Homo sapiens: one gene and its partners. The protein of the gene in region 2 interacts with the protein of the main gene of each other region in a pairwise test. Each region holds a gene or a part of one and is shown on either strand. Other genes may lie near its edges. The genes, in order: GSE1, LENG8, PRPS1 and CAMK2A.

Region 1 (7,000 bases), on a different chromosome or scaffold from region 2:
GGCTGGCAGGTCATTCCCACCAACTCTGGCTGAGGATCTTAGCTCAGCCCTTCAGAGTGAGCCCTGGGGGTATATGACGTGGGGGCCTGGGACCAGCACAGCCCCAAGGCAGGAATCCCAGGGCAGGCAGGGGCAGGGAGGACTGGGGGCACTGGGGCCCAGCTCATAAGACCTGTGTCTGCAGCCGGGGTCCAAGGGACCACCACACAGTTTCCTGGGAAATGCTTTCATAAAGGGCTAGAAAACGGGCATGTGTTTTTACTATTAATACAAAAGCAATAAAACTCATTTTTTTCCTTAAAATCAAAAGCTGTCCCCTTCTTGTTAAAAAAAGAAGTCCAGGCTCAAAAGCAGAGGAAGATGGAGAGAACAGGTATTATTAGTAATTAAAGCTTCTACCTTGCACTCTTCATCTGCTGTGAATGGCCTCCTGGGAACTAGGTCAGGCTGCGTGTGCAGTGCCCTGGCTCTCAACATGGACTTGATTGGTCTCTTTACTTACTGGTGGGGATACCTTTGAGCAATCCATTTTCTTCCTCAGTCTCAGCTTCCCCATAGGCAAGACAGGCATTATAACGTGAAGATGAAAGAACAGAAATGAAAGAGGCAGGCAGAAACGCTGGGGCAGGATGTTGGGCAAACAGGAGGTGCTCAATACACGCTGAACAAATCGGAACGTGAAGGCTCATCCCTCCTTCCTTCCTGGGGCTCACTCACCTGGTGGTGCTCTCCGGCCTGTGCTCTGCCTCCGCCGGCACCGGGGGCCGGCCCATATCCAGGTGCTGCTCCAGCACCTGCTGCCGGAACTCGGACACCTGAGACTGCCGGTCCTCCTTCTCCTGCCGCAGCCGCCGCTGCCGCGCCAGCCACTTCTCCTCCTCATTGGTGCGCTGGATCAGCAGGGCTGTGGCAGCACTGCTGCTAGGCAGAGAGAAGATGCCATGGTTGGAGATGAGGCTGGGCACCGTGTGGTGTGGGGTGGGCACCGGATGCAAGGGGTGTTGGACGGGCTTGGGCGCCTGCAGGCCGGCATCCTTCAGCTTCTCTGTGGGGGGAAACACGGTCAAGCAGGATCTCAGCCACGTGGGCCAGCATGCTCCCTCCCCGTCCTCTCTCACCCAACTGCCCAGAGAAACCAGAGCCCTTCCAAAGGGTTCTTCCCGCAGCCAGAACCAAGATATTCAGAAGGGGCCCTACGGGAGCTTTCAAGAAGCATGTCTTGTCCCTGGAAGGAAACGCTCCGTGGCTGGCTGGCAAAACTCTTGCCCAGCCAGTGCGGTGCCAGAGCCAGCTCATGCTGGCTCAAAGAGCAGACTATTAAATTTCCGGGAAACATGCAAAAGCTGGTTGTTATTACTGGACAATTGTTTCGTAAACTTACAGAGAAATAAAATCAACGAAGCACTCAAAACATCCCTTCCTAATGCCCCGGCTACATTTCACAACTGTCCTCCTGGGGTCAGCTATATCCACTGTGTCTACATCGTGTGCCAACGTGCCTCTGCTCCCTACTCCATGTTCAGCCACACCACGCTTTTAGGGCGAACTCAGCTGGGGAACATTTACACCACGGCAACCGGCAGGTGCTGCGATTCAGGGCTCCTCCCCGCGGGTGGCTGAGACCTTGCCCAGCACAGCCCACCCACGCCCAGGTACCTGCTCGGGTTGGGGTCAGCTGCTCCGAGGGCTTGCCCCGCTCCTCAGTGGCATGGCCACGCAGCCCATGCAGCTCGGCCACGGGCAGGAAGCTGGGCTCCAGGGCCTTGGCGGCCAGCAGCTCCTTCTCCCGGGCCCGCTGCTCCCGCTGGCGCTCCAGCTCGCGCTCGCGCTCCTTCTCACGCTCACGCTCCTTCTCTTGCTCGCGCTCCTTCTCGCGTTCGCGCTCACGTTCCTTCTCCCGCTCGCGGTCAGCCTCACGCTCACGCTCGCGCTCGCGCTCGCGCTCCCTCTCCCGCCTTAGCTCCTCGTCCATCTGCAGCCTGCAGCACATGGAAAGAGTTGGGGGCTCTGCTGCACCAGGAACAAGAGACGGACCTGGGGCAGGCCCTTAAAAAGCATAACCAGGAACGAGCCAGGGCGCTAATCTGAACAGTGACGGGAGGTGAGCCGGGTTTCACTGGTGCAGGAAGAACTTAAGGTCCATACAATCAAAGCGGCTTACAAAATGCCCAAGCACGCCCGAGAGCTCCTCGGCCTGCAGGTTTACTGCAGGAGACCACGGCTACCGAGACAGGCGCTATTTCAGAGCAGAGCCTGAACGATCATTGTCCCATTTGGCAGGTGGACAAACTGTGAGGACAGGCATGGCCAAGGAGTCCAGTCAGGTTCCAGCCCAGGCTTTCTGCCCAGCTGCCATCAAGGGACAGGGAGGGCAGAGGGGCTCCTCGGCTCGAGACGCACTTACCTCTCCGCGCTGAGGCCAGACATGCGCTCCGAGTGCAGCGCTGCCAGGGATGAGTGGGAGAGCTCGGGAGGGTAGCGGACCCCAGAGAGGTGCAGGTGCATCGCTGATGGGTGCAGTGGGGGCAGGGAGCCGGGGGTGGGGATGGGGTAGAACGGGGACCTCAGGGCAGACAGGCAGTAGGAGTCGTCCATCCTGTGCAGAGAAGACGGGGCTGTGAGCAGCAAATGAACCAAGGGGAAGACCCAGCCCTGTCGACAGGTGTGTCTCAGCCAGGTACACACACCTGCCTGAGCGTGGGGAACGTGACAAAATGGCTGGGGATGAAGACCATGCCTGCTGCTAGCCCCAAAGCCCCTTGATGCCGGAGGCTGCTAGGTGCCGACAGCTTGGGGTTCCAGGGCGCCGCCTGCCACCTCCCTCGGCTCAGCCAGACCAGCACAGAGTGGTCAAGCGCCCAGGCCCTTCCAAGGCTGGCGAGCAGGCTGGGCTGCCCTGACGTGGGGTGGTCCATGACATGACTACAGGCCCCTCTGACCTCTGACAAGGATGGGCAGAGCTTCTCCACGGACCCAGGCCAGACCACAGTGCCACCGAGGTCTCCTGCTACACAGCAAAGCATCGCCTCTCCCACGGGCAAAGCCCTGCTCTCTTAACAGTGACTTGCTGTCAATGGACCCCCCGGTGAGAAGGGGAGGAGCCAAGGATGACAGTACAGTCACCAAGGGGGACTGTCTACCAGGAGGGGACCCCTAATGGGCCATCAGGGCTGAATTTAGGCTCAAAGCTGGGGACGATTTCAGGGGCTACTCTAGACCCTCCCCTAGGAGCCTGGCTCTCAGGTCATAAGAAACACCTTCCCCGCCAGGTTCCATCTTGCCAGGAACAGGCCAGCACCTAGACGAGAGGGCGCGTGGGGGATGCCTCACCTGAAGGCCGGGTGGGGGAAGGGGTGTGGGGCCAGGTAGCTGGGGTGGTAGTAGGCTGCAGCAGTGGCCGGGTCCAGGCCGAGGGGAGGCAGTGAGGACATGCGGAGGTCGTCGGTGGTGTGGTAGGGCCGGAAGCTTCTCAGGTAGTCCTCGGTCACGGTACTGGGGGGCACCACGTGGTGCACGGGCCGCTGGAGGCTGCAGGCGGGGATAGTGGGCAAGGTGGGGACAGGTGAGTGCACACCTGCTCCTGCATGGGGGGACGGCTAAACTCCCTGCATCACCCCTGGCGCTCAGTCGGCACCCAGACTCCTGGCACCCCGAACGAGGACGGGGCTTAAGCAGCGGGGGGAGCGAGCTGCCACTGCCACCTCAGTGTGAAGGGGCACAGACAGGGCTGCAATCCCCAGGGCTCAGCGGCCGACAACCATCTAGCAGGCACAGCCTCATCTGTGCAGACCGCAGGCTGCCTGGGGACCCAGACCCTGAGCACTGTGTCCCCACCTGGCCACCTCACCGAAGTCCCCGCCGACCAACTTACTTGAGTGGCGGGAAGCGGGAATCCTGCACAACTGAGCTGGGGGAGAGGCCGAAGGGGTAGGGGGTGCTGAGCAGGTGCGAGGGGATGGCTGGTCCCCCTGCCTTCTCCTGAGGGAGCGGGGGCTCCACAATGAGGCGTTCCCGACCTCCACTGCTGCTCCTGGAGCCGGCATCCTGCGGGAGGAGAGCGTCCAGTCAGGGCAGGAGCCTGGTATAGGCCACTGACCACAGGACACAGCCAGGTCTCCTGACTCACGGGAAGGCGCTAGATTTAGTTCATGTTCTAGAAACATCCTTTCCCTAAGGCTTTCTACGCAAAACATGGTGCATGTGGTGTGGGAAGCAGAACCGTAAGAAAGGGGATGTGGCTGCGACAGGTCTGGGGTGAAGTGCGTCTCGGGATCCGTCTCCCTCCCTGGGCCTCCTCAGTCCAGCAAAAGAACTAGAACCCCCCAGAAACACAATGTGTGCAGGTGAAGGATGCAGGGTGGCAGGGGCTCCTGCCTCCACCCCTCCTGGTGTGGACATCCGAAGGTCACACCAGACACACACCCGGGGAAGCAGACACCGTTGGCACCCAGCACGCCGTGAAGCGAGTGCCACGATGTAGCCAAGACGTCAACTGCGCCGACAGCTGCCCACCTGGCCGCAGATGTCCTGGCCCTGGTGCCCACGTGGAGGGCAGGGGCAAAGGAAGCTGGCACTGCCCCTGGGCCGAAGGTGCTGGTCTGCCCCCAACCACCTCCTGGGGTGGCCCTGGCCCTGGAGCCCACCAGAACAGGCAGCAGCTGGGCCCTGACTGGCCAGCTGGGGTACCGGCCTTCACACACACGGTGGGGCAGGGAAGGCAACAGCTCGCCTGTCCCAGGCTCCTGGACACAGTGGACCTGGGTGTAGCTGGGAAGGTGGTCCAGAGGACTCAGATGAGGGGTCTTCTCCAGGCACAAAGCAGGAGGAGGCAGTGGCCCAAAGCCCACCTTCCGGGCTGAGGTCCCTGCCAAGTTCAAGGATAGGCCGTGCCACCCCTAGCCACGCAGAGGCTGCCCCGCACACACGCAGGGTCCAGCCCGGAGAAACCAGAGCATGAAAAGGCCTTGCTTGTTCCTGTTATTCGTGTGACTAAGTGGGAGGAGGAGGAGGAGGGGGTAGGAGGAGGAGGAGGGGGTAGGAGGAGGAGGAGGAGGAGGAGGGGGTAGGAGGAGGAGGAGGAGGAGGGGGGAGGAGGAGGAGGAGGGGGAGGGGGGAGGAGGGGGGAGGAGGGGGGCGGAGGGAGCCTCAGGGCGGCCCAGATGGGGGCTGTGCTCTGGACTCTGGATGGCTGCCAACCCAGGCGTCACTCTGTCACTGGGGCAGCCGTTCTCAGCCCCAGCATCTTCCCCATGTGGGGACAGCACTGCCCAGGCCTACCCTGACCTGGGGGTGTCTGAGAGCCATGGCCACGCTGGCCCCTCTGAGCTTCCCAGGGATGCAGAGCCACGGGAACCCGGCCCTTCCTCACGTTCCATCTGGCCATGTCAGGTAACGACTGCTGATCAGCGGGCAGTGCTCCTGAAGAGCACCAGCCCCGCTCTGCCTCCCTGAGCCACGAAATGCCAAACACCCAAAAAACAAGGAGGCCATGGCCGTCTCCCCACAAGATCAGCAGGAATGATGGCCCAGGGGCTCTGAGACCTGCCCCACCGTGGAGAAGCATCTGTCTCCCAGGGGCCGTGCCTGTGTCCCTGACCCGCCAGCCCCTCTTCCTGGGCCCATCCATCTTCATAGCGGCAGACGGTGACCCGGCAGCAGCACATGGCACCCGCGCAGAGGCAGTGCAGGCAGCCCGGGCCGGCGCCTCCCCTCTCTCCACCCTCCAGGAGACAGTCAGCGAGGATTAACTGGAGGAGCCGCCGCCGCCGCCGCCGCCTGGAATCTTCAATGAGAGGCAGCATCTGCTCCCTTCCCGCGGGCTGAGCCCCGGCCCCCCTTCTCTGTAGGGTCCTCCTGGGTTCACGACTTCTGACCTGCCTCTCCAGGGTGCTGGTCTCGAGGGTGGGAGGTACACATGGGCACTGACGCCCTGCGTGGGGCCGGGAACTTCCTATTGAGGAGCCAGCGCCTGGCCTTGGGGTCTCCAGCCGGTGTCAGCAACCGGGGTAGTGGGGGAGTGGCCGAGGGGCCAACCTGACCTTGGGAGACCTGGCCATCCTGTCGTGCCTCGTGCACACATCAATGGCATGTGCCCGTCACGGCACCTGCTCAGAGGACAGCAGAGTTGATGGCACGGCTATGAACGGGCATGCGGGGGACTCACAGGGCAGCAGAGTTGATGGCACAGCTGTGCACGGGCATGTGGGGGACGCACCAGCAGGGTGGGGGCCCGGACATGGCAGGTGTGTTGCCAGGCTGGCCTGCCTACCCCAGCCCCGTGAGGCTATTTCCAGGCTGGGCTTCTAGATCCTGCCTCACGCCCCTACCCTGCCTGGCATAGGGCCAAACATCTGAGGAACGGAGCACGAGGAAGGACACACCCTGTTCCTAGGGTCTGGGATGGACTTAACAAGACGGAGTGGCCCCTGGCCCCCCAGCATCCAAGTAGCACCCCAATGAACACCAGGCCTAAAGCTAGTGGGTCTCTGGATGCCCAGAACAGGGGCCTCGCCTGCTCAGGCACCCGGGGTACCTGGACTCCCCCTCCCAGGCTGGTGGGGAGGCCTCCAGGGCAGGAGGGAGACGACAGCCAGGGGCTTCAATCATCACCCAGCCTTGGGTGGCCAGAGTCAGAAGAGGGCTGGAGGACAGACCTCGACCTGAGGACAGCACCCAGGGTCAAACTACCAACAGCCCAGGCCTGCCGCCCTCCTCCGCATGCTGCCCGCGCCGTGGGCCGGGTCAAACGGCAAAGCACAGGGCCCCAGCCGCCCCGCCACAAGGAGGGGCCTGTCCCCAGCCCAGACACGGCCCTTGAACCCCTTCTCCCCTCAGCCGAGGACAAAGCCCTGCTCGCAGGCCAGATGGCACCTTCCTGGCCTGGCTGAGGACAAACAGGGAGTCCGGGGGGCTGGGGGGCAGCCAGCAGGCGGGGCAGGGGCCCGGCGAGCCAGACCCACATGTCTGTGGCTTCCGTCTGGCTGGCGCCCGGCCAACCCTG
Region 2 (7,167 bases):
CAGGGTACCCCAGCCCCATGAGGCCTTCTCACCTGTGCACTGGCCACAGGCCCATTGCTGCTGGACTTGGCAGAGCCGCCGGCAGCTCCTGACTTGCTGATGCTGGCCAGGGCCTGACGGGCCTTCTCCCACTCCGGGTTCTCGTGCATCGGCGTCTCCATGCCATTCTCTCGGCCTGCCCCAGCCACCATGCTGTACTGAGAAGACCTGCAGAGAGAGAGGACATCAAGTCACACCTGTTCTCCCCACTGTACACAGGTGGGCAAGTTGGGAGGCAAATTCCAGCCCCTGGATCCCATATCTAACTGTTACTACCAGTCTAAGCCTAAGTTTTCTAATCTGTACTATGCTGATAAAGGGTTTCTGCTTCAGAGTCTGCTGGGAGGGATAAATGAGATCACCTACTTAAGGTACTTATCCCAGAGCCTGGCACACAGCAGTTGTTAAAACCAAACAAACAAAACAATTAACAGAACCCACAGAACTGAACACAGGCCTTGGCACCTCCTAGGGCTATGTCTTTCATGAATCAATGAATTCTGTCTGACATCACCCCAGTCGGCAGGTTATCACACTATTTTGAGAAAAAATAAGGAATCAGCAGAAAAACAAATAAATGACTGTGTATTGAGTGTTGGGAAGCTGCCTCCTAATTACACTTGCTTGAATGAATCATCACAATTCTGCAAAGCAAGCGCTGTACTGTGAAAAACGAAAGCTCAGAGAGGTGAAAGCTTGCCCCTCTCCACACCACAACCAAATGCTTCCCTCTGTGTTTGCCTCACCACCACCCCCACCCACAGGGATTGTGGCATCACCTCCCCTAAGGCCACGGGAGGTCCCACCCCAGAGGACAGCACTGGGTCTTGCTTCCTCTTTCCCTCCCGACTGGCCTCCATCCCTCTCGCCTCACTAACCAATCTGTGCTACGTTGATCACCCACGTTGGCCGCCATCTGGACCTTGGGGTATAAGGGGTGGACCTCGGGAGCCAGACTGCTTTTTCACTGTCTATGAGAAAAAGAATGAGTTAGGGAGACTTAAGGGGGAGCTAAAAACACGTCACAAAGTGGGGAAGAAAAGTAGATGGACTCAAGAGAAGCCGGGCAGAAAAGGGGAGGCTGACTGAAAAGCCACTGGGGTCAAGGATCTGAAGAGTTCTGGGTGTGGACTAGAAAGGCTGGAGTGAGGGGAAGCCCCTGGCCCCTTTGTAGAGCTCCAGGTGGAAAACGAAGGATTTGGAAACAGGGAAGCCAGAGCAGACTTCCCAAAGGGAAGGAGAAGGGTCTGAAACCCATGTGAGCAAAGAGAGGCTGTGATGAAAGGTCCAGAGGGTAGGGGTGCCTCCATCAAGGGGAAAAGGTCTACAAAAAATTCTAGGGGCCAGGCGCGGTGGCTCACGCCTGTAATCCCAGCACTTTGAGAGGCCAAGGCGGGCAGGTCACCTGAGGTCGGGAGTTCGAGACCAGCCTAACCAACATGGAGTAACCACGTCTCTACTAAAAATACCAAATTAGCTGGGCATGGTGGCATATGCCTGTAATCCCAGCTACTAGGGAGGCCGAGGCAGGAGAATCGCTTGAACACGGGAGGCGGAGGGCGGTAAGCTGAGACTGCGCCATTGCTCTCCAGCCTGGGCAACAAGAGCGAAACTCTGTCTCAAAAAAAAAAAAAAAAAAAAAGCTAGGGAGTACGGGTTGTGAAAGGAACCTGAACCAAGAGGATGGATGCTATAATGAGAAGAGTCTGAGGGAACCCTTAAGGCTGAGAGGGTGGAAAGGTTTCCGAGAACTCTGTGAAAAGGGAGGCCTTTCAGGGAGCATCGAGGGGGCTGGAAGAATATTGGAGAAGAGAAGAAAATTTTGAGAGGAAAAGGGGATTTTCCGGAAGTTAACCCTGGAAGCAAGTGGTCGTTGAGCGTTCCTGAGAATGCCAACGTGAACCCCAACGTGAAGAAATGGGTTCTTAGCACTGACAGACTGATTTCAAAAAGGTCTCCGAAGGGCAGTAAAGAGACCTACGTGGGAGTCCTCAGTGGGACTACCCCTGCCTGCTTCCACGGGAGGTTCCCGGAAGCAGGGGTAGGGCTGGGAGAGAAAAGGGATCACCGTGGTTGGGTGTCTGGACATAAAGCTTTGGGAATGCCAAAGAAGACCCAAAACATGTTCAACGAATTAAGAGTGGGGTACAGAGAGAATTGGAAGAAAAGTGGAGTGTCTCCGGAGCAAGGATTCAGGAGCCTAAACTCCCGAGAGGGAGTAACTGATAAGTAGGATAATTAATCCCGCAGGAGAACCGGAATTCCCACGAGTTGACGGGATAGGAACGGGAGTCTGGAGCTGGGGAAAAGCCCTAGAAACGCAAAGGCTTAACTTAAACAGGACACAGGGCGTGGGTGGAGACGAGGGATCGTGGCGGGGACACAGGAAGAGGAGCCCCAGGGCAGAAGGGAGATTAGAGGTAAGGTCAGGAGTTGGGGGCTGGACAGAGGACTCCCGGACGGGTCTCAAGAACAGAGACAGGCATCAGACGCGAGGCCTGAGGTCCCGGGAGCACCTGGCCGTCCCGCAGGCTGGGCGAAGGCAAAGGAGGACGCCGGGTGGAGGAGGCCGCTCGGATCCCCACGACTAGCCACGGAGCCACTGCCCAGGCCGCGCCTGCGCACCACGCCCCAGAAAGACGCGCAGGAGCCGCCCGTCGCCCGGGGCAACACCCGGTCAACGGCGAGTGAGGGGCGCCCCGGGGCCCCGAGAACTCCAAGGGAGAGGAACGGAAATTAGAAGACGACGGCGCACGCGCGCTAGTGCCCGAACGCGCGGCCCCAGGCCCGGTGCGCAGGCGCAGTGGCTGCCCCTGCGCCGCCACACCCTGTCGACGCTCGCGCGCGGCGTCTGCTGCTGCGACGGCCGAGAAGGCCTCGGGGCTCGCGGGGCGCAAGACCAAAAGGAGATGCTATCCCCGCCCGCCTGCTCGCCTGCCGCTCCCCTTACCAACCAGGATCCTTCGCTGCAGGGACACGCCAACAACCACCCAGGCGATCAGCAACACGGCCACGACACCGCTGTGCCACCCGGCTGGCTCTGGTCTTCTTTGGCTTCGACGTCCTGACCGCGGCGTCCTGACGTCACGCGGCGGCCTTGCACCGCCTCCCTCGGCCCTGCACAGCCAATGAACGCCACGAGCTGCGCTTGAGCCCGCCTTCCTGCCCACGCACTTACGCATGAACATTTTAAGGCAGACCGGAAGTCTGGGTGGGGACGGTGGCCCCGAGGAGACAAGCGTGGCCGCATTAGCTCTTTCTGCCTCCCACGCAGCCTTATTTTTTTTATTGTTGTTTTCTTGTTGCTGTTGTTGTTGTTCTCGGAGACGGAGTCTTGCTCTTGCTCTGTCGTCGCCCACGATAGAGTACAGTGGCGTGATCTCTGCTCACTGCAACCTCCGCCTCCTGGGTTCAAACAATTCTGCCTCAGCCTCCGGAGTAGCTGGGATTACAGGCGCGCGCCACTATGCCCGGCTAATTTTTGTGTTTTTAGTAAAGACGGGGTTTCACCATGTCGGCCAGGCTGTTCTCGAACTCCTGACCTCGTGATCCCTCCGTCTCGGCTTCCCAAAGTGCTGGGATTACGGGCGTGAGCCACCGTGCCCGGCCGCAGCCTTGTTTTGACTGAGTCAGTGGGAGCCATTACTGTTCCTAAATGTAAACTGGCGTGACAGGAGTTCCGGGATTGTCCACAGCACGGTGATGTGGAAGCCCTGGGGAGAGAATGATAAAGAAAGGGGATGAGGAACAGCTCCACCCGGAAGAGCGGGCTTCCCTAGCAAATGAATCTGGAAGGGCGCAGGGGAGGGGGCACGGCGAGTTCAGATGGACCGAGGCTGGAAGCTGACGCGGTTGGAGGGGGATGGGTGTAGCTGTTGGCAGTGGCGCTGGGGTGGAAGTGTGTGGGGTCACAGATGTGTAAGGGTGGGCGCGGAGCAGACCCCCGAAGGTCCCTGAGGTCAGGCTGAGGCATTGGACCAAATCCGTACATAGGCATTTCTCTGAACTGCGCGCCACCTTTTGAGTGCCATCTGTTTCCGTCCAGGACTCTGATACAACTATCCAGTCCGCTGCAGGGACCGGTCACTGTGTCACAGTAAGTGGTGGGATTTAAGAGGCAGTTTTCCTCCTCATGTTCTACCATTATGAACGTCTAGCTTGAAAAATACATACCATTTTCATAACTACGTATTATTTTGTTAGTGCTAGCATAGTAGATCTTTTTCCGTTATTTTACTCTGTGGGGGGGGGGGGGTTTGTTTTGTTTTTGTTTTTGTTTTCTTTTTGGTACTAAGCTTTTTGTTCTGGAATAATTTTGGATTTATTCAAAACGTTGCAAAGACCGGGCGCGCTGGCTCACGCCTGTAATCCCAACACTTTGGGAGGCCGAGATGGGTGGATCACCTGGGGTCAGGAGTTCAAGATCAGCCTGGCCAACATGGTGAAGTCCCGTCTCTACTAAAAATACAGAAATTAGCTGGGCGTGGTGGCGCGTGCACCTGTAATCCCGGCTACTCGGGAGGCTGAGGCAGGAGAATCGCTTGAACCCAGGAGGCCAAGGTTGCAGTGAGCCGAGGTTACACCATTGCACTCCAGCCTGGGCAACAAGAGTGAAATTCTTGTCTCAAAAAAAAAAAAAAGAAAAGTTGCAAAGATCATAAGCAGTCCACCATGTTTTATGCCCACTTTCTTCTGATGCTGTCATCACAAGCACCAACAAAAGTGGTTTGTTGTAGATACTGACATGATGCATTACTGTAACTAAAACCCAGACTTTACTGGGATTTCACCACCTTTTCCTCCAATGTTTTCTTTACATGCCAGGGTACAAGCCAGGACCCACGTTCCATTTAGCTTCCTTTTACCTGTTGTATTTAGGGTGGGTTTCTTGTAGATAGCATGTAGTTGGATCTTGCTTTTTTTTGCCCAAGCGAACAGTCTCTGCCTTTTAAAAGAGGTGTTTATAACTGTACTTTTATTTTTTATGTCTTATTCTTTAGCATTCTGTACACAGATACAGCGATAAAATGAAATGACTGGAACTTAAATGTGAAAACTCTTTACAAGTAAGCCCACAATTAGATACATTTATCTTACATGTCAGGGAAAAAAATTATGTAAACAGGACAAATTATATCACAAAAGAATCCCAAAGTAGAAAAAATACCTAAGAAATGTGTCTAACCATGAAAAGTACTGTTCTCTTGGTGTCTTCACATCGTGTCTTCTGTGTACTTAAGTACAAAACATTGTTGCCTCTGATTAATGCACCCTGTACTTATTTTTCTGTTGTCCAGTTACATATTTGGTTGGTTCCAGGGCTATGTTCATGTAGCCATCCAGGCAAACCAGCACCCCTCCCTTAATCCACTTCAGAATTTTACCCCAACTGTCTGATGATGTGCTCTAAGAAGTCACTAGGGGATTGCTTTTCTTAAAAAATCTATTATTATTATTATTTTTTGAGACGGCTCTGTCGCCCAGGCTGGAGTGCAGTAGCACGATCTCAGCTCACTGCAACCTTTGCCTCCCAGGTTCAAGCAATTCTCTTTACAGGCGTGCACCACCACACCCAGCTAATTTTTGTATTTTTAGTGAAGACAGGGTTTCACAGTATCTGGAATTCCGGACCTCAGGTGACCCGCCCGCCTCTGCCTCCCAAAGTGCCGGGATTACAGGCATGAGCCACTGCGCCTGGCCAGTAGGGGGTTGCTTCTGAAAACTTATTTTAATAATCTTGGGTAGGCCAGGCGCGGTGGCTCATGCGTGTGATCCTAGCACTTTGGGAGGCCGAGGCGTGTGGATCACCTGAGGTCAGGAGTTCAAGACCAGCCTGGCCAACATGGCGAAACCCCGTCTCTACTAAAAATACAGAAAAATTAGCCGGGCATGGTGGCGCATGCCTGTAATCCCAGTTACTCATGAGGCTGAGGCAGGAGAATCGCTAGAACCCTGGGGGTGGAGGTTGCAGTGAGCCCAGATCATGCCATTGCACTCCAGCCTGGGAGACAGAGCGAAACTCTGTTTCAAAAAATAATAATCTTGGGGGGCAGGAAACCTAAGTCATAATCCCGGCTCTTTTACTTAACCAGCCGTATGACTTGGAAAACTCGTTTCCCTTCTCTCGGCTCCAGATTCCTCATCTTGCAGCTGGGATCCAGAGCTCTCACTCCAGGAGCCCAGTCACAGCAAAAACCAAAACTGTACTTTTTTTTTTTTTTTGAGACAGGGTTTCTCATTCTGTCACCCAGGCTGGAGTGCAATGATGTGATCTCTGTCTCAGCCCACAGCAGCTTCAACCTCCCAGGCTCAAGTGATCCTCCTGCCTCAGCTACGCAGTGTATGGTATTTTGTTACAACAACCAGAATGTAGTAAGACATTTATTGAAGGATATCTTGGTTCCTTCCAAGTTTTTGGCAGTGATAAAGAAAGCTGCCATAAACGTGCACGTGCAGATTTCTTTGTGGGCAGAAGTTTTCAACCCATCTGTGTAAATACTGGGGAGCAGTGTTGCTGGTTCATATTCTAAGAGTATGTTTAGGATTATGAGAGACCACCACACTGTCCTCCAAAGTAGCTGTACCATTCTGCATTGCCAGCACCAATGAAGAAGGGTTTCTGTTGCTCCACATTTCTGCCAGCATTTGGTGGTGCCAGCATTTTGGATTTGGCATTCTAATAGGTATGTAGTGGTGTCTTGTTTTTTTTTTGTTTTTTTGAGACAGAGTCTCACTCTGTCTTCCAGGCTAGAGTGCAGTGGCATGGTCTCGGCTCACTGCAACCTCCGCCTCCTGGGTTCAAGCGATTCTCCTGCCTCAGCCTCCCGAGTAGCTGGGACTACAGGCGTGCGCCACCACGCCCAGCTAATTTTTGTATTTTTAGTAGAAACGGGGTTTCACCATGTTGGCCAGGATGATCTCGATCTCTTGACCTCGTGATCCACCTGCCTTGGCCTTCCAAAGTGCTGGGATTACAGGTGTGAGCCCCCGCGCCCGGCCAGTGGTGTCTTGTTTTAACGGACGGTTCCCTAATGACATACGGTGAACATCTTTTCCTGTGTTTATTTGCCATCTGTATTAGGGTTCTCCAGAGGGCCAGAACTAACAGGATATATGTATATATTGAAA
Region 3 (7,125 bases), on a different chromosome or scaffold from region 2:
AGGTGTGAGCCACCACACCCTGACTAATTTTTTTATTTTTAGTAGAAACGGGTTTCACCATGTTGACTAGGCTGGTCTTGAACTCCTGACCTCAGGTGATCCGCCCACCTCAGCCTCCCAAAGTGCTGGGATTATAGGCGTGAGCCATCACGCCCGGCCATATGAAATAATCTATGCACATGTTCCCTTATACTTTATTGTTATTTATTTATTTTTTGTAGAGATGGGGTCTCACTGTATTACCCAGGCTGGTTTTGAACTCCTGGGCTCAAATGATCCTCCTTCTACCCTGCCCCCTGCTCCCCAAAGTGCTGAGCCACCATGCCAGGCCCTCCCATATATTTTATTTTATTTTATTTTATTTTTGACACAGAGTCTCACTCTGTTGCCCAGGCTGGAGTGCAGTGGTGTGATCTTAGCTCACTGCAACCTCCGCCTCCTGAGTTCCAGCGATTCTCGTGCCTCAGCCTCCTGAGTAGGTGGGACTACAGGCGCCTGCCACCATGCCCTTCTAATTTTTGTATTTTTAGTAGAGATACATGGTTTCGCCATGTTGGCCAGGCTGGTCTCGAACTCCTGACTTCAAGTGATCCACCCACCTTGGCCTGCCAAAGTGCTGGGATTATAGGCATGAGCCACTGCGCCCAGCCCTGCCATATACTTTAAATCATCTCTAGATTACTTATAATACTTAATACAATATAAATACTACGTAAATAGTTGTTATACTGTATTTAGAAAATAATGACAAAGAAAAAAATCTGTACATGTTCAATACAGGTGCAATTTTTTCTCCAAATATTTTCAATCCACACTTGGTTGAATCCATAGATGTGGAACCTATGGATATGGAGGGCTGACAGTACAGTGGTTTAAAATCTATTTCATGTTCTTTCTTTCCTCATTGTAGTGTGGAAATTGGTGAAAGTGTACGTGGAGAGGATGTCTACATTGTTCAGAGTGGTTGTGGCGAAATCAATGACAATTTAATGGAGCTTTTGATCATGATTAATGCCTGCAAGATTGCTTCAGCCAGCCGGGTTACTGCAGTCATCCCATGCTTCCCTTATGCCCGGCAGGATAAGAAAGATAAGGTAGGAGCAGAATTTTATTTTTTGAGCAGAGGAAGCAGGAGCACTTGCCCCAAATCACAAATAAATTCCAAAATTATCAAATATATATTTAGGGGGAATTTTAAAAATCACCTTTTCTTAGGTATTACCCTATCTTCAAAACAATAGAAATATAATTGGTTTGTATAAAGCAACACATTTGTAGTCTGTATTTTATTACAGTGATACATATATAACTTTCAGTTAGCTCACTGGTATTTTTAATTGTATCAGTAAGACTAAGCACCAACTCCTCTGGAGTACTGGAGTATATTTTTAAAATTACGGTAGATCCTCTCAAACTGTAAGATTGGGATCCTAGTTGTGACCTCTTCATAAAACTTGAAGTCTGTTATATGAATACTTGATCTGATAGATACATAGATAGATAGATAGATAGATAAACTATATATATCTCTCACCTTATCCTGGTATATTAGAGGATAAGGCATATACATAAAACTTTGCAAGTCTATTGTAATTAATGCCCAATTTTACACACAATGCCTCGAAGAAGGTCAGATATTTTTATTCCAACAGAGTATAAAGTAAAGGGCATGGGCCGGGTGCGGTGGCTCACGCCTGCAATCCTAGCACTTTGGGAGGCCGAGGCGGGAGGATTGCCTGAGCTCAGGAGTTTTGAGACCAGCCTGGGCAACGCTGTGAAACTCCGTCTCTACTAAAATACAAAAGAAATTATCCAGGCGTGGCGCTGCGCGCCTGTAGTCCCAGCTACTCGGGAGGCAGAGGCAGGAGAATTGCTTGAACCCAGGAGGCAGAGGTTGCAGTGAGCTGAGATCATGCCACTGCACTCCAGCCTGGGCGATAGAGCAAGACTCTGTCTCTACAAAAAAAAAAAAAAAAAAAAAGGCATGCATGGACTTTGCTATTTTACAGTGCAGCAAGTATGTTTTATTTGAGGAGTTCATAGTTGTTGGAAAGTTGACCTCCAGATGAGTAAGTAGTGATGTGATTTACAAAGGAAACTATAATATCTATTCTGTGATGTATCTTCAAACCTTGACATGTTAGGTGTTAAAGGTTTACATATGTATGTGTTGAAAGAGATTTTAATAAAATTATTTTTTAAAGTCTGCCTAGTTTGAATAATTGAGCATTGGAAACACTTGAATAGGATTGAAAATGTGTACATTAAGAAAACAAAAGTTAGGAAAGCATTTTCTTTATTGATAAGTGTATCCTGATTTGGAAAAGTGATGTTCCACTTAATATTTGTTCTGAATTATGATCCACTTAAAGTCAATGGACATGTCTCCTTCTATGAATTTCTGGGTACCATAGTGCCTTTAACATAGTAGGTACACAATAAATAGTTTCTTGAGTAAATGAATTGTTTTTCAAATTGGCTTTTTGGTTTTTCTTTTCTTTCCTCCCCTCCATTTAGAGCCGGGCGCCAATCTCAGCCAAGCTTGTTGCAAATATGCTATCTGTAGCAGGTGCAGATCATATTATCACCATGGACCTACATGCTTCTCAAATTCAGGTATCAGTGGAAGCTAAATATTGGTGTTTGAAAGGTGGGAGGAAAGGACTGATGATGCTGAAGACTGCAGAGAAGCCAAAAATTATGCCCAAGTACATCTGAAATAAACTAGATATCAACAACATTTTAAATGTGTTCACCTTAAGCATACTTCATGATCTTAGTCATTTCAGGTGGTTAGATAGGGAGGCAGTCTAGTTTTATGGGAAGAGCACTACTTTGAATAAAGGCTCTGGTATTTACTAGCTTTGTAAGCTTGGGAAGGTTACTTAATTTCTCTGAACATATACTTTTTCATTATTGTGAGTATAAAACATTAAATTCATATTATAATGCCTGGCCCATGACAGGTACTCATAGATAGGAGCTGTTATTATCATTCTTATTCTCCTTGAATATTCATGGAGTGCAGTGGCACGATCTTGGCTCACTGCAACCTCTGCCTCCTCAGTTCAAGCAGTTCTCCTGCCTCGGCCTCCCAAGTAGCTGGGATTACAGGCACCTGACACCAGGCCCAGCTAACTTTTTTGTACTTTTAGTTGAGATGGGGTTTCACCATGTTGGCCAGGCTGGTCTCGAACTCCTGACCTCAAGTGATCTGCCTGCTGCAGCCTCCCAAAGTGCTGCGATTACAAGCATGAGCCACCGTGCCTGGCCTCATGGTCTTAAATTTAGAGCCACAGATATTGGAGCCTACTTTCCAACATAAACCCAAAGTAAGGGGGGTGGAATACCACCTTTATTTTATATTTTTTCAAAGAGATTTTTCAAATCATTACATTTCAAGCTTGTGGGAATTCAATGAAGTACATTGGACAGGGACTGTACTCCTTTTATGGAAAGGAATGACTTAATTGAGAAATACAACTAATTTGTATCAACTAGAATTAGAACACAGATCTCCTGATTTCTAATTATTCACTGTGACTATTTATCATAAGTAGCTTCCATTAAGTTTATATGCCATAGCATCTCTAACTGGTTTATCCATTAGCTTTTACTCCTTAACAAATCAGTCCAACACTTAGTGGCATAAAGCAGTATTTACAAACTCACTGAGTCTGCATGTTGACTGGGCAGTTCTTAATGGTTTTGTCTGAACTTAGCCATTCTTTACAAGGGCTCACTTATGTTCCTATGTTCAGTTGTGGGTTGACTGAGGGCTGGCTTTGCTGATCTTGGCTGGGCTCTCTCACATAGCCCAGATTCAAGGAGGCTTTTATAATCTACCACACTGGGCCTGCCTTCCCATCAGTTTGAATGTTGCAGTAAGACATTCTCTGAGCAAGTTACTACTTTGTGTTTGCCATTTATAAATGGAAGAGAAGGAAAGTGAAGCAAAACTGATCCAGCTTCTTTCTACAGGGCTTTTTTGATATCCCAGTAGACAATTTGTATGCAGAGCCGGCTGTCCTAAAGTGGATAAGGGAGAATATCTCTGAGTGGAGGAACTGCACTATTGTCTCACCTGATGCTGGTGGAGCTAAGAGGTATGGTTGAAATTAGTATTGTTCCCAATGTACTGGGAAAATCTTTCAGATGGTTGTGTCACAAAGTGAAGTTTTTCTATCCAAGTGGCAGTTTTTAAGTATTTTTGAATGGATGTAAGTAGCTAGCACATGGGTTGAATATAGTTTTACCCTTTCCTCTTTTACTGTCCTCAGTTACTACTCGGAAGACAAGACAGAAAAGGGGTCCTAAATCATCATATTATGGATTTGACTATAACTTATGAGTAACTTGGTGCTACAGAGCTAGCAATACAGCTATAAACCTTTTGGGAAGGGTAGAAAATGTGGTTTTCTAATGAATAGCAGCTGCTATTGAACCACATATTGGTGGACAAATTCGCTTTTACACTCCTCTTACAATGCTGTTGGTTAGATCATTTTGATCCTTGGGATTAAAATATTAAGCAGGAAGGAAAGTAAAGTGTGACATTTTTATTTAAAGCCAAGATCTTAACATTTTAAACAAACTGATTGCCAGGGATTGCCAGTTAACAGTGCTTTGCAGCTCACATGGTGCAGACTAAGAGCTCTTGATTTCCTTAGTGGATTACTCGTTAGTAATGCATTCAAAAGTGTGACACATGTTCTTCTTGTTGTGGAAATAGAATGAAGAGCTACAAAACACAGATGATTAGGAAGAGCTAATTCAGAACTTTCTAAAAGCCATTCAAATCTTCAATGACTGTTTCTCAACAACCTCTTTTATTTCAGTAACTTCAACAGAACTGATAAGCTGAGAACTTGAGTTATGTTATCCAGCCAGATATATGGGTTGGTGAGTCCCATGTAATTGCTAGTTACCATCTGTAATGCTAGAGACAGCCTAAGAAACATCCCCCCAACTAGTAGTTGTCATATTTAATTTGTCGGTCATTATTTTAATATCTTTCTGTGGGACTTAGAAAATAGTCACATTTGAAATAGGCAGGATTTTCTTTCCAAAGGTGGGTATAGGAAAACTGCCTTTAGTAGACAACTTATTGCTACCTGATTTTTTTTTCATTATCATTGTCTTATAGTGATGGAGTATTTTACAATTGAGTGTCTATCACTTCTGTGTTGGCAGGGTTTGGGGAGTAGGTAGAGATCCCTGTGTGATATTCATTTGTACAGTAGTTCTCTCCTCAAAAGGTGTAGAGAGTTACTTTTTCTAGCCCTTTTTATGCTTTGTTGGTCACTGAATTTGTTGGCCTTTGAGTATGGTTGGTTTGGGATACTTGAACTAATTGATCATGCATTTGCCTTGGGTAAGTAATCATTCCAAGCGAATTGGTTACCACTGATGTTATGTGCTTATGCAGTAGTAGTAATGGAGAGTACAGGGTATGGTTGGTTTAGATCAAGGTACAAATGTTACCTAGATTATGGTTCAAACCTTATTATGTGGTCACAGGTTCTCACTTATCCAGCAAAAACTCATGTGACCATAGTCACAAGAGAAACAGGACAAAATGCTATAGTTTGTTCAGTTCTACATTAAAAAACAGGACAAATCCCCAAGCACGGGCTGCTTCACACATGACGGAGATGGCACAGCGGAGCATGGACAGACGTGCCACTGGGGCAGCTCACTGTCATTTACACTGAATAGATTTTTGTTTGAATTATGTGGTACTTTGTCAAAAGACAAATTTGTCTTCTATCCTACCTTCTAGTCTGGTTTATTTTCTCTTGTAATAAGAAAAATAAGAATTCTCTTTGATTGGAAGATACTTTGGACCGAATGGTGAGATGCCTAGCTTGTCTGGGTAATTGATATAACTTTCTGTCTAGCAATTGTGAAAAAAACTCCCAAGCTTGGTGTCCAGGTACAGTTGACAGTGACAGTTGATGGATGTTTTGCCAACAGCACTGAGGGAAGTGATGAGGACACAGGCATTGGAACAGGCTGGATGCTGCTCCTCTCCTGCCAGTCAGGTTCTCTTCTCACCACATCCCCATTCACGGGTCTTCCATGATGGGAATTGGGACAGTCTGTGTACTCCTGGCATTAGTTAATTCTTTCCTCATTCCTTCTGCTGCCAATCCATTAAATAAACTTGCGTGTCTTAGCGTTATACTGCTTCCCAGTACTGGTGAGGGTGTCTGTCCTCTACCCAGAATGAATACTCATCTAAGTTTGATCAGTACGTTCATAAGCTTCTGTTGAGCTATGGAGGCACTGGTTTATAAAACCCAGTTTGTGATATTTGCCTTTGAGAAGTCAATGATAGTTGCTTTCATTCTTCCAGCCCTGGGAACTATTGGTTTCAAGGAGTATTCTCCTCCCCAAAACAAGCCCATTCTTTAGTCCATTTCTTTTTTTCTTTTTTTTTTGTTTTGAGACAGAGTCTCGCTCTGTCACCCAGGCTGGAGTGCAGTGGCGCGATCTCAGCTCACTGCAAGCTCCAGCTCCTGGGTTCACGCCATTTTCCTGCCTCAGCCTCCCGAGTAGCTGGGACTACAGGCGCCCGCCACCATGCCCAGCTAATTTTTTGTATTTTTAGTAAAGATGGGGTTTCACTGTGTTAGCCAGGATGGTCTCTATCTCCTGACCTTGTGATCCGCCCACCTCAGCCTCCCAAAGTGCTGGGATTACAGGCGTGAGCCACCGCCCCCGGCCTCTTTAGTCCATTTCTTTTGTCTTAGAAGCCACACATACATATGAACACGCTCTGTTTTGCAGAGTGACCTCCATTGCAGACAGGCTGAATGTGGACTTTGCCTTGATTCACAAAGAACGGAAGAAGGCCAATGAAGTGGACCGCATGGTGCTTGTGGGAGATGTGAAGGATCGGGTGGCCATCCTTGTGGATGACATGGCTGACACTTGTGGCACAATCTGCCATGCAGCTGACAAGTAAGTGTGGATTGATGGGGCTGGTAGTTAGAAGGAAAAAGCTAGCAATTGCTGTCTGAATGTCTTCAGCCTGCTGATTCCTTTTGGAACCAAATTGAGGGGATAAGTAACTTTGTGAGATTTTTATCACCCAAGGCTTAAATTATAATACATAGAAAT
Region 4 (7,885 bases), on a different chromosome or scaffold from region 2:
TCCCAGCCCCGGATGGGCCAACTCCAGACAAAAGGTACAAGCAGATCCCATTCCTCACTTTCAGCCTTGCCCAGCCTTTGAGAACAACAACAGTCACCCCAGTAGCAATCGGCCCTGGGGGCCTGTCATGTGCCAGGCTCGAGGCTGCATCTCTACATGCACCATCTCATTGAATGCTCACAGCCCTTTTTATCTCCAGACTACAGGTGGGGGTAAAGAGGTAGCATAGCCTGCCTGGTGTCACAGAGCTATGGGTGATGAGGGACAGCGCCTGTGTCCCTAGTGGCTACGCAGGGCACTGCCCCTCCCTGCACCACTGGATGCTCAGACTGAAGCTGCTGTGGAGAGCAGGAGCCCCAGGCTCCTCAATGATGTGGTCTGGACTTTTTAACACAGACATCAGGGGTGCGGAATCAGTCCACTTTATCCCCTTGTCTCTAACACAAGCTTCTGCAAACTTAGGCTCATACACAGTCTTCCCGATGTCCCTGCAAGCTCCTGACATTGCATGCAACATTTCGTAGGTTTGTGCGTTTTTCTGGGGAACGTAGATTTAGACTTTCATCAGATTCCTGAAGGAATATGTGACCTAAAAAAGGTTAAGAGCAGTCTGATGGTTCTGGAAGGAAGAAGTCTGAAATTGATTAAACAAGGCCTAGCTATGCCTGCTACCCTCGGTTTTCCTGCCATGGCCACACCAGGGCTCCCTTGCCCCTGAAATTCTCTGTGAAGGCTCACGAAGGGTCTCTCTACCAAGTTGCCCCCACAAAACCCAGTCTTAATGATATCCATCTCCTCTTGGGGCAAAACATCACTTTTATTTTCACTTTGAGCACTTGAGTCACATCTCAACTCCATCTCACTGTACTCATGACGCAGTCCTGCCAGGACCCAGTCTTGGTCACTCCCTGAAAGGCAGCTTCATGGCTAATCAGGGAATTCTTGGGTTCTAGGCGAGCACTGGAAAACACCTGGAGAGGGGTCCCTGCACAAGTTTGTAGACAGCCTCAGTCCTCCAGAGCAGCCCCAAACATTTTGTTCCTGCCCCTACCCGCAAAAAAAGCACATTCAGAAAAGCTGAAAGTCTGCAGATAAGAGTGAACACACGTACACATGGGGGTATATGTGCTCAAGGGAGGTGGTGCATGCCTGTAGGATAGCCTCTGTGTGTGTGTGTGTGTGTGTGTGTGTGTGTGTGTGTGTGCAAGCAGCCTTCCTGTATACAGTCACAGGGCCACCTCCCACACATATGCAGACACCAGCATGAGCTCACACATGCCTATAACACCCATACTCCCACATAACCCTGTGAGCCCAGGCCTCACACATGCACACACATGCGTGTGCACACACACGTACATCATCCTGTGTGCATGACCCCAGTCTTCACGTAGATGTGCATATCAAGACCTCACAGGAACACCATTGTGTCCGCATCTCATATGAGCATCCTCACACACCCCTAGACCTCACACACATGTGCCTTCCTATGTGCACACAGCTCTAACCTGCCATACATGTGCACATTTAATGAGTCATGTTTACACCCTTGTTCTCATTCAACCCAGCCAACAGCACTCTTGTAATACTCACACACATGCACCCTTGCAAGGCACACTTGCATTTTCAGGCCTTACACACGAAGCACCTCTTCCTGGTGCACATGCATGAATGCTTGCACACCCTGGCAGGGCACACCAGCGTACCCCAGTGTCACAAGCAATTTCCCTCAAAAGCCCTTCTACAGCCACACACATCACTCCTCAAAATGCACACTAGTACACACACATTCAGAACTCACACCAATACACACCTGCCTCCAGGGCCCCTCCCCCCGTGCTCCTGCTGCCTCAGCAGAAACCAACCAGGGCATCGGTGCTCCTTTGCCCACAAGGCAAACTCTGCCTCCAAAATGCACCCAACCCTTGACCCATCCCAGGATCCTCCAGAAACCCAGCTGGGGACATCCAGGAATCCCTCCCTGACACTCCACACCCTACTGGGCCACCCACAAGGGCCTCCCCTCTTTCCTCATCCTCCCATCCTTCTCTACACAGCAGTCATCAGGGCAGAAAATGAGCTCTGGGCTGGGCAACTTTGCTTGTCCAGAGCCACTGCACCCTTCATACCCTAGCCCCTGAAACAGCGGTGCTCCCCGCTACAGCTTTCCTGATTTCCTCTCCCCACCTCCCAACACCCGGGAAGCCTGTCATGCTCAGATATTAACCCCTACTGTACTGACGCCCTCACTCCTGGCAGGAGCTGAGAAAGGGGAGGTAGGGAGGGAGAAGTTGGCCACTCTGTACAGTCACTGTGGGTGTCTAAAGTCAGGAAGAACTACCGGGAGCTGGTGAATTCTCTGTCACTGGAGGTATCTAAGTGGAGGGCGGATGGCCACCTCAAGCAAAACTAGAGAAGGAATTCCAGCTTTGGACCCAGCTGACTAGGAAAATCCCTTTTTAACCCTAAGTCTCTAAGAATCTGTGTGTATCCAGGTTGTGTGTACTTGTGTGCATTTTGTGTGTATGTGTGTGCACTGGCATACACTGTCAACCCTTCATCCCTACATACACACTGGCCTGGCTAGCTTGGCACATCTGTGCACCCACAAACATACCCACGCCCGACTCTGGACACTCTGTACACAGGCAGGTGCCCCCAAACCCATGCAGCCTGCCTTCATCTGTGTACAAGGAATGCTCCCCAAGCACTGCAGGCACACACACCCCACTAGAGACCCTGACCTCCCCGCCCCCCATGCCTTCCAGGACTTCCTGAGGCACAACTCACTTGCCCAATTCCTCGAAGAGCTGGTACTCTTCCGTGAAGCGGGTGCAGGTGATGGTGGCCATCCTGGCGCTGGGCAGGCAGGTGAGGCTTGGGACTGGGGGACCAGGACTGAGGCGCTGCTGCTCTGCTCCCGAACCTAGGGACCACTTGCCTGCCCGTGCTGCCGAGTGCAAACAGAGAACCGGTTTGACTGACGAGCCCGGGGCTTCTGAGCAGGGCACTGTGGCTGCTCACAGCCTCGCGAGCCTTCGTCAGCATCCAGGTCCCCATGGCAACCACCTCCAAAACGCCCTGTTCCCGTTGCCCCGGTAACTGCCTCCCCAACACCTGCCTGCCTTCCACTGCGAAACCTGCTCTCGGACGCCCTGACCATACCGCACACAATACTGCAAGCCTGTGTGGGCCTGGGGGTGGGATGGACCCAGCACCCCTGGGGTGATGGACCCAAGGAGGGCCTGGAGGAGGTGGAATAGAGCAAACTTTGTCCACAAGTGATCTTTTCTCTTCCCACCTCCCCCACCTCCAACTGTGGGGCCCTTGTAGCAGACGGGATGGGATTAAGTGGGGCAAAAAGGCAGTTGCCATGGTAACAGCCAGTGGGTGCCGCATTCCGGATGGTCCCCAGGAACGAATGACAGGATGCAGTTACCCTGGCAACTTCATCTCTAGAGAGACAGGTATTGCCCCGTTGCCCTGGCAACAGCTGGGTTCTAAGGTTTACAGGGAAATGATGGCTAATTCACAGGGATGGCTCTCCCTCTGTGGATCACTGTAGTCTCTGTAACTGTCTCTCTGTTGCCCTCTGTTTTTTTTTTTTTTTTTTTTTTGCTTCTGCCTCTGTCTTTCTTGTTATGCTCGTGCTCTTTCAGCTCTCTTACCACCTTGTCCATCACACTAGCACTCCAGCTTGGCGCAGAAGTGCAGAGGACACCCCAGGATTCTGGAGGGAACAGCCCTGACTGCCTGCTCACCCCCACCTCTCACAGCTGTGACAGTTGCTCCCCTCCAGAGCCCTCCTCTGCAACCTCTCCCCAACCCCATGCCCCCAACGGGACCATGGAAATCTGGTCTCCTGGTGCTCATGTCCCAGTTTCTGCTTGTGCTTCCAGTCAAGGTAAAAAAAAAAAAAAAAAAAAAGGCGAGAGGGGGCTGTGGGGAGGTGAGCATAGCATGGCTTACCCGGGCTAGGCCACTGGCCAGAGACTTGCCATGAAATCTTCAATCCAAAATTTTCTGGGCACCTTCCCTGCCAACTTCAACTCTTCAGGGCATCAGCCATACCTACAGCCACAAGATCTTACTCCAAGGTCTTGGAGTTAGGAAGAAAAGGGACTGGAGTTTAAGACTAAGGATCTGAGTTTGAGCTCTGATTCCTGGACATTTATTATTTATATTATTTATTTATTTATTTATTTATTTTGGAGACAGAGTCTTACTCTGTCACCCAGGCTGGAGTACAGTGGTGCAAGCTCGGCTCACTGAAGCCTCCGTCTCCTGGGTTCAAGTGATTCTCCTGCCTCAGCCTCCCAAGTAGCTGGGACTACAGGCGCACACCACCACGTCTGGCTAATTTTTTGTGTTTTAGTACAGACAAGGTTTCACCATGTTACCCAGGCTGGTCTCAAACTCCTGAGCTCAGGCAATCCACCTGCCTCAGCCTCCCAAAGTGCTAGGATTACAGGTGTGAGGCACCATGCCCGGCCTTTGGACATTTATTAGCTGAGTGATCACGGGCAAGTCACTCACCCTCTCTGAGCCTCCAGCTCCTTTTCTACACAACAGGGGAATGAAGATGCCCTGCAGGGGAAGGCTGTGGAGATGGAGTGGGCTAAGGGCTGTGAAGGCCTTTGGGAACTATGTAAATAGGAGGCCTCTTTCTAGGCTCTAGAGGAGGAAAATGAAGGTTTAAAGCTGGCCCGTGACCACCCCATCACTCTAGCTTGGGCTTGGCATCTCAGACCCTGCATACCCCTTCCCCTCTCCACTGAGGAAAAAGGGTGCCTTGGCCCATTTCGCAGCTTGATGGGCAGAGGCTTCATGCCAGCACCTGCCCCCAGCGAGCATGGGTTGGATAAAAGGATCCAGGCATCCAGACCCTCAGGGATTCTAGCCCACCCGCTCTGAACCTCCACATTGCCTTGCTAGTCCTCTCACTTGCAGGACATGTTATCTGCTTGTTGGTATTCTCCAACCCCATGAAGTCCCTGACTCACTACCCTACTTGCAGGGGCCCCCTGGAGACATCTGGATAACCCTCCCATTCTGCCCTTCTTCCTGGGAGTGGGCTGTGGGGGAGAATAAAGGGTGAGCTCACCCATTCAGCCGCTGTTCCCAGGAGAGGAGAGGGAGGGTGGGAGAGGGAGGGTGGCAGAGGGGAAGAGGGGAAGTGAGCAAGGGAGGAGGGGGGTAATGGCTTAGCCACTAATTGCACCATTACCACCTTTGGGAAAAGGGAAAACCACTCAGTTTTGTTTCTGCGCACAATATGCTTCCCGCTTCTGCCGCCAACGTTGCAATTCAGAGGCAGAGTGGAGAGGCCTATGCCTGGGGGCCGCACAGCCAGTGGGCAGCAGGCAGGGCACAGAACACGGTGGCCAAGCTACAGGCCTATGTGGGGAGGTGGGGGAGGGCTGCACTGCCACCCTCCTGTCCCAGACCCTCTAGCCTGTCCCCCAGGAGGGGATGGCTTCCACACAAGAAAGTGCTGGAAGAGCCCTTAGTGACCACCAAGGCCACCTGCCATTGCACAGGGACAGGAGAGGCAGTGTTGCTTAGTAGTTAGGGTGACTCCACGACTTACGGGCTATGTGATTTTGGATGAATATCCTAACTTCTCCGTGCCTCTGTGTCTTCATCTGCATAATTGGGTCAATAATATTCCCTACCTCCAGGCTGTTCTGTAGATTAAATGAGACAAGCACAGTGGCTGACACTATAAATGCTCAATAAATGGGAAATTATAATCAAGAAACTCAAAAGTCCTCTCCCCTCACACACCACTCCCTGAATCACGGAAGCACACACCATCATCTTGAGTCCCAGCACTTCAGGGCACTGTTCCCTTAGTCTGCACTGGAGTTTAGCTCATGGTTTGGAAATCACCTTGTCTAAGCCTAGTTTGCAGCAATTTCTGTAGAACAAAGAACTAGAGCTAGAAGGAGAGGAACCACAAGGCTCTCCAGCTCATCGGGTGCCAAAGGAATGATGATGCTGTTTTAAAAATTCACAGTAAAACAAAAAAGCAACTATGCTGTGAGATTATGAGGCTGTATTAATGGAAATCTAATGTTCTGAACTGGGACAGTCCTGCGTGGCTGGGTGCTGGCCTGACCCCTGTTTCCTCTCCCGATTCCCACTGATGAAATGGAGCATGCTCAGAAGTGAGCAGAGCACATGGGGAAGACCCTGGCATCAGGTCCCTCAGAGGAAGGTGTGAAGGAATGGAGGCAGGAAGATGGCCACCTCTCTCCCTGTATGTGATGTGGACCACGGGGGCAGCCTCTGTGGCTGCTGGGAGCAGGGCCAGCACAGCCCCGCTCCTGTCATCTCTTTCTTCCCTACTTCCATCTCTCCTTTCCACTCTCCTTTCTTCTCTCCTCTTGCCTTCCCCTCTCCCTCATTTTTCCTGTTCCCTCTTTTGCATCCTTCCTTCTCAGTTCTCCGTCTTTCTCATCTTTTTTACTTCCTTTCTGGTTTCCAGCTCCCTCTCTTTCTGTCACTCTTCTCTCCCTCCCCTGCTGGCCTGCACTGTGCATGCGGTCCTGGGGGATGGGCAAGTTGAGGGCTGCAGGATCCAGATAGCAGAGAGATGGCTGGAGAGGCAGAAGAGAGAAGAAGAGGAGGGAGAAGAGGAAGAAGTCCCCTCTGAAAGTCTTACACATGAGCACACACACACACCCCTCTGAGCCTTCCAGAGCCTAGCTCAGCGGTGTGGGCACTGCCTCGGACAGGCACCCCCCACCTTCCTGAGGGTAATAGCCACTCTGCTGAGAAGGCATGACTGCTAATTCACCACCTCCCCTGAGCCCGCGAGGCTAGCAGCTGTGCCCGGTGGTGGCGGGCACTGAGGAGCCAGCCGTGCCTCTGTGGCGCTGAGAGAATGAGCCGATGATTGCAGGAGGGGGACTGTTCCTGCCAAACTCCCCACTCCCCAGGGCCAAAGCAGACACGAGAGGCAGCACGTGTGCCCCCATCTGCAACACGCGTGTGGTATTCGAGAGCAGGCCTCCATGCTATGGGCTGGTCGCCAGGGGTGGGAGCCCTGGAGGTTGCTGAACCCAGTCCTGACATGCCAGAATAGGGATTGGCACGTGAACACAGGCAGTGCTCCACAGAGACAGAAGGGATGAAAAGTGACCAGGGCTGGGTTCCTGCATGGGTGATTGTAGCCCCAGTGGCATTGTGACAGCTGACTCAAATCCCACCTTCCACAGCCCACACACATATGCCCAAGTGCCCCAGGGTCCTGCAGGGCCTGGGCAGGCACCACAGAAAGTGTGCCATCCAAAGGGTCCCCACAGGGCCTGTCCCACTAAGGGCAGTGAGCATGGGGGGCAGAATTGGTGGAAAGTGGGCCAAGAGAGAAATGGTCCTGCTGAGGGTCTGGGTGGAGGGAGATTGGGTTCATTCATTGCAGTAAGTAAGGCTAGGCCTACATGAAGAAGTGGGGGAAGTCAGGGATCAGGGAGCAGAACTGTCCCTGAGGTCTCCCACACAGGAGGCACTCTTGCAGGGGAGAGTGAAGCAGAGAGCCATGGGACAGAGGACAATGGCTACTGGGCCGATGGCTGCATAGCACTCCTTGCAGTTAGAGGACCTGAGTTCGAGTCCTGGAAGAGCTTGCAGGAGGTCTCCCCAGTAGAACCTCCACTTCCTCCTGAGAAAGATGGAGCCCAGAGCACTGGCCCTCCATCCAGGTGTGGGGCTATCACTTGGCCCTTGGGGAATGGGTTACCAGAGCCCAGGACTCTACTGGCAGGGCCCAGCTTGGACAGGCTGCCCCCTGGCTCTGGCCCCTACAGCTGGCAGATCAGCTGCCATCTGGTGCAGCCAAGGAAGAAACAGGGGGTCTCACCAGGCATCTCTGGGCTCCACT

What was found.
Region 1: the proteins of LENG8 (region 2) and GSE1 interact in binary tests that used the Homo sapiens proteins (3 or more experiments, as listed by UniProt).
Region 3: the proteins of LENG8 (region 2) and PRPS1 interact in binary tests that used the Homo sapiens proteins (3 or more experiments, as listed by UniProt).
Region 4: the proteins of LENG8 (region 2) and CAMK2A interact in binary tests that used the Homo sapiens proteins (3 or more experiments, as listed by UniProt).

Annotation. Positions count from the first base shown.
Region 1 is NC_000016.10:85,651,322-85,658,321, reverse strand, and holds part of GSE1 (genetic suppressor element 1), read right to left. Parts: intron 4,045-7,000; coding exon 3,872-4,044; intron 3,529-3,871; coding exon 3,331-3,528; intron 2,597-3,330; coding exon 2,405-2,596; intron 1,980-2,404; coding exon 1,657-1,979; intron 1,046-1,656; coding exon 718-1,045; intron 1-717.
Region 2 is NC_000019.10:54,445,133-54,452,299, reverse strand, and holds the start of LENG8 (leukocyte receptor cluster member 8), read right to left. Parts: upstream 3,102-7,167; 5' UTR 2,990-3,101; intron 2,644-2,989; exon of another isoform or gene 2,556-2,643; intron 1,011-2,555; 5' UTR 956-1,010; coding exon 918-955; intron 208-917; coding exon 33-207; intron 1-32.
Region 3 is NC_000023.11:107,638,385-107,645,509, forward strand, and holds part of PRPS1 (ribose-phosphate pyrophosphokinase 1), read left to right. Parts: intron 1-910; coding exon 911-1,094; intron 1,095-2,517; coding exon 2,518-2,616; intron 2,617-3,981; coding exon 3,982-4,106; intron 4,107-6,792; coding exon 6,793-6,966; intron 6,967-7,125. UniProt on the Homo sapiens protein: Catalyzes the synthesis of phosphoribosylpyrophosphate (PRPP) that is essential for nucleotide synthesis.
Region 4 is NC_000005.10:150,286,774-150,294,658, forward strand, and holds the start of CAMK2A (calcium/calmodulin-dependent protein kinase type II subunit alpha), read right to left. Parts: upstream 3,001-7,885; 5' UTR 2,853-3,000; coding exon 2,791-2,852; intron 1-2,790. UniProt on the Homo sapiens protein: Calcium/calmodulin-dependent protein kinase that functions autonomously after Ca(2+)/calmodulin-binding and autophosphorylation, and is involved in various processes, such as synaptic plasticity, neurotransmitter release and long-term potentiation.